Homo sapiens: one gene and its partners. The protein of the gene in region 1 interacts with the protein of each later gene in a pairwise test. Each region holds a gene or a part of one and is shown in the gene's direction. Other genes may lie near its edges.

Region 1 (3,748 bases):
TAGAAGAATCGCTTGAACCCGGGAGGCAGAGGTTGCAGTGAGCTGAGATAGCACCGCTGCACTCCAACCTGGGCAACAGAGCGAGACTCCGTCTCAAAACAAAAACAAAAAAGACACCTTGGGTGATTGGATTGGGAAACCTAGGGCTAGCTGCAGGGATTTCTGCAGTGGGAGGCTTCCAGTAGAAGAAAAGGAAGACATCGTAGGTGGGCCCCTCGACTGTGTATCCTAAGGAAATGAGGCATGAAAAAGGACTTCACCTTTTTTCAGTGGCTGTGGTGGGCCAGATGAGCACTTGTGGCTGAGAGACTCCCTCTTTGGAGAGAGGTGTTCTCAGATTTTCCTCACTTTGGTTTTATACTCTGTATTAGAGGTTTGTTTGGGTTGGCAGCTTGCATCTTCTCTTCACTCTGAGCTCTTTCTGCAGTTTGAAGAGTGATAAAAAGGTCAAGGACTTTCTTATTAGCAATGTTGATGGATGTGGGTCGTGGGTTTATTGCTTGTTTTGACTTCTTTTAACAGCTTTTCCTTTTTCTTCTCATTCTTTCTTTAGTGAATCAGTTTATCAGATAGAACTGTAACTTCTTGTTGCACATTGGCTGTATATATTGAACATGTCCAGTGGCATAGTTTAACTTTTTTTCCAGCCTATGCCTAACTGCCAGGCCATCTTCCAGATCAGCATCTTTCAGACTGCTATAGAATCCTTCCTGCTGATGGCCTTTTTAAAGGCTTGGCAAAATTTTGTATTCATCTTCTTCTTCTTTTTTTTTTTTTTCGAGACAGGGTCTCCCTCTGTCGCCCAGGCTGGAGTGCATTGCCGCAGTCTCTGCTCACTGCAACCTCCACCTCCCAGGTTCAGCTGATTCTCCCACCTCAGCTTCCCGAGTGGCTGGGACTACAGTCGTGTGGCCACCAAGCCTGGCTAACTTTTGTATTTTTAGTAGCGATGGGGTTTCACCGTGTTGGCCAGGCTGGTTTCAAATTCCTGACCTCAGGTGATCCGCCTGCCTCAGCCTCCCAAAGTGCTGGGATTACAGGCATGAGCCACTGCGCCTGACTATAATTCATCTTCTAGGGGTGCGTTTGGGTGTGGTGATCCGTGGGCCCTTTCAGCTAACTTCCTTGCTTGTTCTTTTACCTCATGCATGACTGTTGTTTCCATGGAGATTTTCTGGCTAGCGTACACGCTCTCAGTTGTGTGTCAGCATCTGAAAGTACTGTATACTTTTCACCTTGCTTATTTTTACTTTTTTTTTTTTTTTAAATTTTGGAGGCGAGGTTTTGCCAGCTTGGCTAGGCTCGTCTCAACTCCTGGGCTCATGTGATCTGCCCACCTTGGCCTCCCAAAGTGCTGGGATGACAGGCGTGAGCCACCACGCCCGGCCTTCCACCTTATTAAAAAAATTGGGCCAGGCGCGGTGGCTCACGCCTGTCATCCCAGCACTTTGGGAGGCCAAGGTGGGTGGATCACAAGGTCAGGAGATCAAGACCATCCTGGCTAACACGGTGAAACCCCGTCTCTACCAAAAAAAAAAAAAATTAGCCAGGCTTGGTGGTGGGCGCCTGTAGTCCCAGCTACTCAGGAGACTGAGGCAGGAGAATGGCGTGAACCCGGGAGGCGGAGTTTGCAGTGAGCTGAGATTGCGCCACTGCACTCCAGCCTAGGCAACTGAGCGAGACTCCGTCTCAAAAAAAAAAAATTACGTATACAGAAAAGTTGAGCGGACAATACAGTGGATGTCCATAGTACCCACCACTTAGATTCCCCAGTGATCTTTCCCCATATTTACCTTATGTAAGGATGAGTGTTGTGTGGTTTTTCTTTTATTCTTGTGGAATCAATTCAGAATCCTTTGTGTCTTGTCCAATGGACTTGAGTGTAGCCCTCCCTAACATGAGTGAGGTGTGCTTTTGCCTGTCCACACTTAGAAACAGCAGGTCTCTAATTTTAAAAGTAGCTCCTATTTACATTTGCCCAGTTACCCCCTAAGTTTTAAAAAACGTTTGGAATCAGAATAATGTACTCAGCATCACATAGTGAATTTTTTATAAAGTTGAATTTATGTCTCTTATCTCTTTCAATCTGTAGCAGTCTTCCTTGTATTTTTTAATACTTTGACTTCAAAAGAGTGATTAGGAAACGTTTCAGATATTTACAGAAATACATGGGAACATAATTCCCACTCACACATTGCCTTGCTTTAGCACAAGTACATGGGAATATTCCTACTCACGGCCGGGCGCGGTGGCTCACGCTTGTAATCCCAGCACTTTGGGAGGCCAAGGCAGGCGGATCACGAGGTTGGGAGTTCGACACCAGCCTGGCCAATATGGTGAAACCCCATCTCTACTAAAAATACAAAAATTAGCTGGGTGTGGTGGTGCACGCCTGTAGTCCCAGCTACTTGAGAGGCTGAGGCAGAAGAATCTCTTAAACCTGGGAGGTGGAGGTTGCAGTGAGCCAAGATGGTGTCAGCACTCCAGCCTGGGTGACAGAGCGAGACAGCGAGACTCCATCCAAAAAAAAAAATTCCTGCTCACACATCACCTGGCTTAAGCACAAGTACATGGGAATATACTTCCCACCTACACATCACCTGGCTTTAGCAGTTACCACCTTATGGCTGATCTTTTTCATCTGGGCCCCTGCCACTTTCCTCTGTATTATTTTGAAGCAAATCTCAGACATTATATTCATCAGCTTTTTAAATATTATCTTTAAAAGATAAATTAGAACTGTGTCATTGTCACACCTAAAAATTTTTTTTATCACTACTGAGATTGTAATCAGTGTTCATATTTCCAGTTATCTGTCATGAATGTTTTTAATTGTATGAAGAAAGGGAACCCTGTGGGTTTGTTTGTTTAAACTGTTGGAAGTTTGGAATGAGATTCCCAACTTTGAAGTCTAGCATCTGTTCTCAGGATGTGACACACAGAGGGTAGCTCTATGTTTTGACATTTTTATAAAAAAAATATCATCTTGGTCAGATAAGAGTTTGGTGACTCCTGGGAGGATCTCTTTTCAGGCTAGTGGAAATATGAGGCAGAAAACTGGGATTAAGCCGTACAGTGGGGATCCCATTCGGCAGTGTCTCCTTTAGGTACAGCTGAAGGTACCCGCTGGTGTCTGGCTGCTGCATGGTGGTGGGAAATGAAAGAGGTGGTGTGGCTGGGGAGAAGGGAGCTATCCAAGATGACCCTTGACGTCCCTCATCCCCACAGTTTCTTTCATTTGAGACATCCTTGCCCCACCTGCCCCTCTCTGAGCTGACTCCTCATTGCTTGCCAAGACTGCATAAAATGCTGCTATGTTGGTGGTTTGTTTTCCTGTGATTTCTTTTCCCCCTGAAGCCAAGCACCTTATGGAGAGGGCTGGATCTGTCCTGATCATCTCCGCTGTGACAGGGCATGGCCCCATGTTGATGGTGAATAGCCTCTCTGTGTTGGTACAATGCCCCAGTCACCATTCACTAGTCACATGTGTGCCCGCCACACACCATGCTTCCTTTTTGCATTTCTTCCCTGAGTTAGCTAGTCACTTAGGGGGAATTGGACTGTCCCGGGTCTCCTGGGAGTATCAGTACATGGCCGGACACACTACCTTTTCCTTTATAATTCTTTGATGGCATTCACACTACCTTTTTCTTTATAATTAAAGAAAATGTTATACAACCTCGTTGTGGCGTAATTGGCATACAACTAAGTGTACAGATTTAAAGCTTCAGTTTGATGAGTTTTAACC
Region 2 (3,748 bases), on another chromosome or scaffold:
ACCGCGCCCGACCGATAAACATTTTTGCTAACAGATTTAAACTAGCGTCTCCTGTACCTTTTTTCTACACACCTCGACCCCAGGGCTGCAGTTCTGCCTGCCTGAGGTCGGATGCGGTCGGCTGCAGGGCAGGGCTCCGGGCTGAAGCGCAGCGATTCCCGCCGCCGTGAGGGGGCGCTCTGCGGGCCTCGGCCTCGGCCCTTCCGGACGCCCGCACAGGTCGCCGGACCCAGAGAGTCGGCCCTTAATAGCCCCCTCCTGGAAGCGCTAGGTCCCGAAACTGGCCTTCCCCCGGGGCCCATCTCCCGGCTAATGTTTAACCCGGCCACACTCCACATTATCCACACTCAGGAGACCGGGGTGAGGTGAGGGTGGAGGCTGGGGGAGGTCACCTCCAAATCGCCAACTTCCGAGCCTTTGCTCCAGGCAAACGGCCTTCCTACATCCCTTCCAGGTATCAACCTACAGCTCCTGCGCACCTACTATGTGCCCATTTCCACAACAGGTCATGAGCACCTAATATGTGTTCATTAGACCAAAACATGAGCATCCATTACGAGTCCACACCTACTATGTGTGCATTCACCCACAACGTCCTGAGCACCTACTATGTGTGCATTCTCTTAAAATGCAATGAGCATCGATTGTGTGTCCACATAACCCATGAGCACCTGCTATGTGTCCATCTGGGCACCAGCCCATGAGCACCTACTATGTGTGCATTCTCTTAAAATGCAATGAGCATCGATTGTGTGTCCACATAACCCATGAGCACCTGCTATGTGTCCATCTGGGCACCAGCCCAGGAGCACCTACTATGTGCCAAGCCTTGTGCCTGCCATGGATGCCTTGTGATCAAGAGCCACGTGCTTCGGGCTCTGGCGGGGACCGCAGCATCAAATGCACGAATGAAGACGGACTTAAAACCAGCGTCAGATGCCTCACCTCTAGGGGATGCTGATTCTGGGATGCCTTTTTCGTCTCCTAGGCTCCTCAAGGCCAACTGCGCTGGGAAGAGGGGGTGTCCAACAGCAGGAGGGCTGTTTTTTTGAACTACAATTTGCCAGCATACAGCAGAGCAGCAAGAAGATAACAGGGCGGGGGGCACGGGATTAGCCCAAACAAAACACACTCAAGAACGCGAGTCTGTGGTTCAACACGAGGCAGAAAACAGCTGGGCCGGGTGCGGGGCTTCTCCCTCGCGTGTATCCGCTCACTGCACTCGCTGCCCTGGCCGCGGGCGCCGCGCAGGGTGCTGATGTCCAGGAGGGATCTAGACCTCCCGCGGCGCTCGGGCTAGTGGACGCAGGTGGTCCCAAATGCTGGGACCAAGCTAGGAACCAAGCGGAAGCTCGGATTGCTCGGCATCGGGCCTCGTCGTTATTCTACCGTGAGGGAAACTGAGACCGAGGGCACGGCAGGGAGTCGCCCGCCGTCTCACCAGCGTGAGGGGTTGCGCCGGGCCCCGAAAACTGGTTTGCGCCGCCCGGCATCGGGATCCGGGACCTCTGCCCGCCGGGCGCTGCCTGCGCGTTCCTGGAACTGGGCTGGGCGGAGAAATCAGGGCCCGCAGAGAGGCATTCCTGCCGCCTTCCCCGCCGCCCGGGGCCGCAGGGGGGCCTGGCCAAGGTGACCCCGCGGGAGGAGGCGAGGGGTCCCCGCCCGCTCCGCCGCCGCGACCTCCTCCATCTTCCCGGTCTGCGGGGCTTTTCCTCTGGGCCCGCGCGCCCGGCCCCCTCCTCGGGCTTCCCCGAGGGCGGGACGTCTCGGGCTCCCCCGCCCCCCCAGGCCACCTCCCGGCCGTGTCCTAGCGCTGCCCTCGGGCCGGGGGCGGGGCCGCGGGGGGGGGGTGGCGTGAGGATGGGGCCGAGGAGGACGCGCGCGGCTCGGCGCCCCACTTCCCTCCCTCACCCCTCCCTCCCGGTGCCCGCTCCCCGCGGCCGCGCCGCCCTCCCTTCCCCCTCCCTCGGCCCAGCGCCGGCTCCCGCCGCCCCCTCCCCCGACGCGCACGCCCCGCCTGGCAGCTGGCGCCCCGGGCCTGGGGCCGCAGCGGTGAGAGGGGTTTTGCTGGGAGGGAGGGAGCGAGCGAGCGAGGGGAGGGGTGGAGGCCGCCCCCCGCGCCCCTCCTCCTCGCCCTCCTCCGCGGCCGGCGGGCCCTCCTCCCGCCGCCTCCCTCCTCCCTCCTCCCGCCCGCCCGCCCTCCCTCTAAGACATCCCCGCACGGCCCGGCCGCCGCGGCCACCTTCCCTGCCCGAGCTGCAGATGTGGCGGAGCGGCCGGGCGCCGGGCGGCCGTGCCAGGGGAGCCCGCGCCCCGTGAGGCCTCGCGCCCCGGCCCCCGCCCGTCCCGGCCCCTCCCCCGCTCGGCTCCCCGCGCCCCCCGACCGCCGGAGCCCGCAGCCCGGATCCCGACCGCCCCCGCCGCTGAGGTAGGAAGCCCCCCGGGCGTCGCGCCGTGGGGACCGGGCCGGGGCGGGGGGGGGGGGGCCCGCCTGTCGCGCCGGGGCTGCGGGGCCCGAGGGTCTCCTCCCCCGCTCGCGTCCGCGCCCCGGGCCATTGTGAGCCCTCGCCGAGGCCCCCGCGTTCGCTCGCTCGCTGGCTCGCGCGCTCCCTCCCTCGCCGGCTCCCCGGCCGGGTCCCTCGAGCTCTCGGTCTTTCTTCTCCCTCCTTCCTTCCCTCCGTCTGGAGGCCGGGCCGAGCAGCGCCCGGGCCCGGGGCGGGCGCAAACTTCAGCTGGGAAGTTGGGCGGCCGCGGTGGGGGGCGTGCGGCGAGGTGAGAGGGGGGTACCCGGAGCCTGGGCATGAAGTTGTCCGGGGCAGCCGCCCCTCCTCTCGGCCGCGCCGGGGCTGCTGCTAGGAAGGGCTTTGGAAGGTGCCTCCTCCCTTGGCCGGGAGAGTCTCCCTCCTGCTGCCCCTCGCAAGCCCGGGTCCTTCCTTGGACCTCGGGAAGGGGCGTCCCTGGGGGGTCAGGACTGGGAGTTTGGGACAAGTCAGGCACTTGTTACTCCCCTGCGGTCCGGGTGGACGCAGGCGACCGGCCTGGCAGGGAGGAGATGGCAAGGGGTCCATACTCGCCGGAGGGCGGGTCTGGAGCGGGTGGAGGAGGGGGCGAGGCAGGTGCATCCCGAGGGAGGAGAAGCACGCACAGCTTCCCCGCTGGCCCCCTGGGATGGGGCTGGAATCCAGGCTGGCACCTGGAGGCCTTGGCATGCTGCCCTGCCCAGCAGGGTACTCGGGCCACAGCAGGGCAGCGTGCAGCCTGTCTGCCTGTCCAGGAGGGCCCGCCCAGCCTGGCCAGAGGGTGGCCGGGAAGCAATGGTTTCAAGGAGTTGCCCAGCCCTGCCCTGGGGCCTGGGAAGCTGGAAGGGATGCTGGGAGGGGCCCTGGGCCCCCAGCCATCACAGCCCAGGATCTTGGCTCTGGAGGGAACGCTTGACACTGAGGGGGCAGCCAGGCCGGCTGGGGACCTGGCCAAGGCCTGGGCTTGGTCTGGGCCATGGAAAGGGCCTGGGCCATGGTTCTTGGAGGCTGGCACCCTGGGTAGTAGGCCGCCATCCTGCGTGTCCTGGCATCCTGGAGGGAAGGTGGGGCCAGCCTGCGGCTGGGGAGGAAGCCCAGAGACACTGCGCTTCGGAGGGCCTTCCAGCCCCCGGGCTCAGGGGAGGGGAAACTGGCCCCTTGGGTCACCCCTCCCCAAGCCCCATTCTGGTGCCACAGTGCCACAGCTGTCCAGGCCCAGCCCACACACC
Region 3 (3,748 bases), on another chromosome or scaffold:
CTTCCCTGGTCGGAGTCGGGGCCAAAGGAAAACACCTGGAGCTGGGAGCAGTGAAGACATTGGGGAAGATGTTTTCCTCTGCAGACAGGAGGGCAATTCTTTAGTGGAGGCAGTATAAGTATTTAGGAAAAATAAGATCATGAGTCCCATGGAACATTTTTTGCCTTAATTAGCTTTATTTTAATTGTGTGGCTTTTCTCTGTAATATTCGTTTCAGCCTTTGTGTTGGGCACTAGACATGAGGCACGAGGCAGAACAGACATGGTCTCTGCTCTCATGGACTCTGCAGTTGAGTGGCAGGATAAATTTTAATCAAATGAGTATATAACTATTTGATGATGAGTTGTGGTGTACGCTGTAAAAGGTCATTTAAGGTGCTGTGATAGCATTCCACCCAGGGACCCAGGCAAGTCCCCCGGATAAATAGGGGCTGAGGGAAGGCGTTCCTGAGGAATGATGTTTGCTCAAAGACCTATAATGACCCCATTAATTGAATATTTGGAAGACAGAGGGAGGGCAGGCCCTGGGCTATCCTGTAACAGTATGTGGGCTACAGCCTGCAAGCCAATTGGTACACTTGGTAAAAAGAATTGTTTCTAAATTTAGAGGAAGTGTTGAAGCTTCTGGGAAGCAGGTGGTGACAATGACATTCAAAGAAAAAAATTGTTTTGTTTTGTTTTTTGAGATGGAGTCTCACTCTTGTTACTCAGGCTGGAGTGCAGTGGCACAGTCTCAGCTCACTGCAGCCTCTGCCGCCCAGGCTCGAGCGATTCTCCTGCCTCAGCTTCCCAAGTAGGGGACTACAGGCGCCTGCCACCATGATTGGCTAATTTTTATATTTTTGGTAGAGGTGGGGTTTCAGCATGTTGGCCAGGCTGGTCTTGAACTCCTGACCTCAAGTGATCTGCCCGCCTCGGCCTCCCAAAGTGCTGGGATTACAGGCATGAGCCACCATGTCCAGCCCAGTTTTTTTTACACTGTGTGAAAGTTTCTAAGATTTTAAAAAACTTTCATGAGAAAATGCTTGGGAAACTAAGATTGAAAAACCTTAGTCTTGCCATGTAATTTGGAATAATAATTATAGAATCATCTCTGTATCCTATAAAATAATACCATGCTTCTAAATGAAAGCCAGTGACCTGTGGGTCTCTGCACCTGTTGATGAGATTTACAGTCCTCTACAACGCCCTGTCTTTGATGCCAAACAAGGAATTCTCTCAAATTGTCCTCCCCGCACACAGTGTCTTGGTTGTGGTTTATGTTGTCTTTAAGCAGTAGGTACAGTCGGCTGTACAGGGGCTGAGTTCAAGACATTAGTTAGAGAGTATCATCAAAGAGGACATTCCATTAACGATAGCAACAGTAAAATATCCAAGGTTAAACCTTGTGGAAACCTCGTTAGTGGGGTGGAAAGGACTTTAAAACAACTAAAGGACTGAAAAGATATTAATAAATTTTTGGAAGGAAACTTCAATATGGTTAAAAATCTCCATTCTCCCTAATTATTCTATAAATCCTCTGAGTTTCCAATGAGAATATTAATAGCATGTATGTTTTCTGTAATGATACTAAGTAAAATGGTTACTAAAATTTGAGTGAGGGGGACATGCAGAACCCAGAAACTGTTTGAAAAAGAGAAGTAATACTGGAGCTATTGTATCCCACCCAAATCCCTTTGATCCTGGTCCAGGAGTAGACAGGCAGATCAGTGAACAGAAAAGATAGTGTGTGTGTAGGCAGACATACACACGTAGTTTAGGAGGTGATTTAGGTAGCATTTTAAATAAAATTGGAAATGATCATTTATTCAGTAAGTGTTGTTGGGATGATTTATTTCAAATAAATGAAAGATTTAAACACAAAATTGATTTGCCCCCATTTGCACGTAATACACTATATGTGTACATGAGTATATATACACACACATACACACACACTGGTACAATTTATCTCTGAGTTTTCATGAGGCTGGCTATCATAAACTCTTTCTTGCTTAAAATGTTTTCAATGAAAATTCCTAAAAGATTGCATTTTTAAAATTTGAGGTCTTGAAAGAAATTACAATTTAGTCAAATTATCAATAACGTAAAGATCTGTTTTGTAAAGGGAGACTCATGTATGTATTGAAAATAATAATATTTTTAAGGATCTTTTGTTTTCAGTATTTTTTTTTACATTACACCTCTGCTTTGTCTTCCTGTTTGAGATCTTTTCAGAATTTATCAGTGTCTCTGAGCATGTTAAAAGTCTGAGTGGGAGAGAAAGGAAGGAAAGGCAGTTGCTAAAATATAACTTGAAGAGAGAATAAATAGACAGGAAAGCTCACTTTTGTAATGCTGCTTGAGACCTGCAATTGTAATTACTGTCCTAACATTTGTGATTGATTTTTAGGAGGAAGTAATGGTTCTGGAGAGAATCTTACTGCAGACCATCAAGTTTGATTTACAGGTAGAACATCCATACCAGTTCCTACTAAAATATGCAAAGCAACTCAAAGGTAAGAAGAAAGTTTTCAGAAGAATTTTTTCATTCTGAAATCAAGTCTTTATAATTTGATGACACTCAAATTACGCTTCTCAAAAGCGGAAAACAAAGTTTGATGTGTGAAATACCAAGGGCATGGCTTGCTCAGTCAATTCAGCATTGCAGCTGCTAATGCTGTTTCCTTTTATGTATAAACAGGCTCTGTCATCCAGTTGCCAAGTGATGGGAGAGGCAGGAAAATGAGGCAGAATTTTTTAAATGGACTAATAAACTTAGCCTTGGAGCCAGGTTTTCCATACATGGTGGTTCAGCGTAGGTCATGAGGAGGAAGAAGGGGTAGGATGTGGACCCACATCATTCATCCTTGTTTCCCACGCAAAAGCTCTTTGCTGTGTATTTGAGTGGTGCTGAACACGTGGTAGGTTTTTAATAAATACTTGATGCTGCCTGTGAATTTTTCTATTGCTATTAATTTACCTTTTTGTCCCCATTTCTAGGTGATAAAAACAAAATTCAAAAGTTGGTTCAAATGGCATGGACATTTGTAAATGACAGGTATACATGTTCAAATGTTGATTAATTACAGTATTTTAAAATAGGCAGAGACTTTATGGACCATTTCATCTAAACCCCTCATTTTGTGTCAGAAGAAACTGACTTGCCCTGGCTTGAGGAGCCAGTTAATGGCAAAGCTGGGGCTGACGTCCAGGTCATCTGCTTCCCGGCAGAGGGTTTCCTTCTGCCCTGCCGTGTCATGGTGTTGTGAGGTGCTGAAATTTTATCACCAGTCTGAAACATAAGTCCAAAACAATACACTGGAGAATTTTGAAAACTAATTACTTAGAGCCCATTTGGTTTTGCAAAAATATACTTCCTGGTATAGTTTTAGAGCCTTAACACTCTTTTGAGAGGCCAGGGATCTAATGAGGGGCCGTGGTGGGAAACAGAATGCCTGTGAATGGAGTTGCTGCCAGCCCCATCCCACTGCAGTCAGTGAAGCTTCTCTTACATTTGACTTCCTCCATAAGATTTCATTTGAAGAAACAGTTGAGTGGCTAGGATTTCAACAGTTTAAATAACATAAGTCATTTTCATTGGTGTAGCAATTTTTGGATGTGCTAGAATTCTTCTGATTCTTTAAGGAATAGAGAAATTACTAACTATGGTTAAAGTAACTTAGTCGGGTACCTTTAGAAGAGTAAAGACTTGAGTTTATTTATTTATAGTACTTTAATTAAATTTAGGGGAGAATAAGCAAATTAAT

What was found.
Region 2: the proteins of FAM168B (region 1) and GLIS2 interact in binary tests that used the Homo sapiens proteins (3 or more experiments, as listed by UniProt).
Region 3: the proteins of FAM168B (region 1) and CCNK interact in binary tests that used the Homo sapiens proteins (3 or more experiments, as listed by UniProt).

Annotation. Positions count from the first base shown.
Region 1 is NC_000002.12:131,058,813-131,062,560, reverse strand, and holds part of FAM168B (myelin-associated neurite-outgrowth inhibitor), read left to right. Parts: intron 1-3,748. UniProt on the Homo sapiens protein: Inhibitor of neuronal axonal outgrowth. Acts as a negative regulator of CDC42 and STAT3 and a positive regulator of STMN2. Positive regulator of CDC27.
Region 2 is NC_000016.10:4,313,827-4,317,574, forward strand, and holds the start of GLIS2 (zinc finger protein GLIS2), read left to right. Parts: upstream 1-2,240; 5' UTR 2,241-2,428; intron 2,429-3,748. UniProt on the Homo sapiens protein: Can act either as a transcriptional repressor or as a transcriptional activator, depending on the cell context. Acts as a repressor of the Hedgehog signaling pathway. Represses the Hedgehog-dependent expression of Wnt4.
Region 3 is NC_000014.9:99,498,375-99,502,122, forward strand, and holds part of CCNK (cyclin-K), read left to right. Parts: intron 1-1,815; exon of another isoform or gene 1,816-2,391; coding exon 2,392-2,497; exon of another isoform or gene 2,498-2,981; coding exon 2,982-3,039; exon of another isoform or gene 3,040-3,748. UniProt on the Homo sapiens protein: Regulatory subunit of cyclin-dependent kinases that mediates activation of target kinases.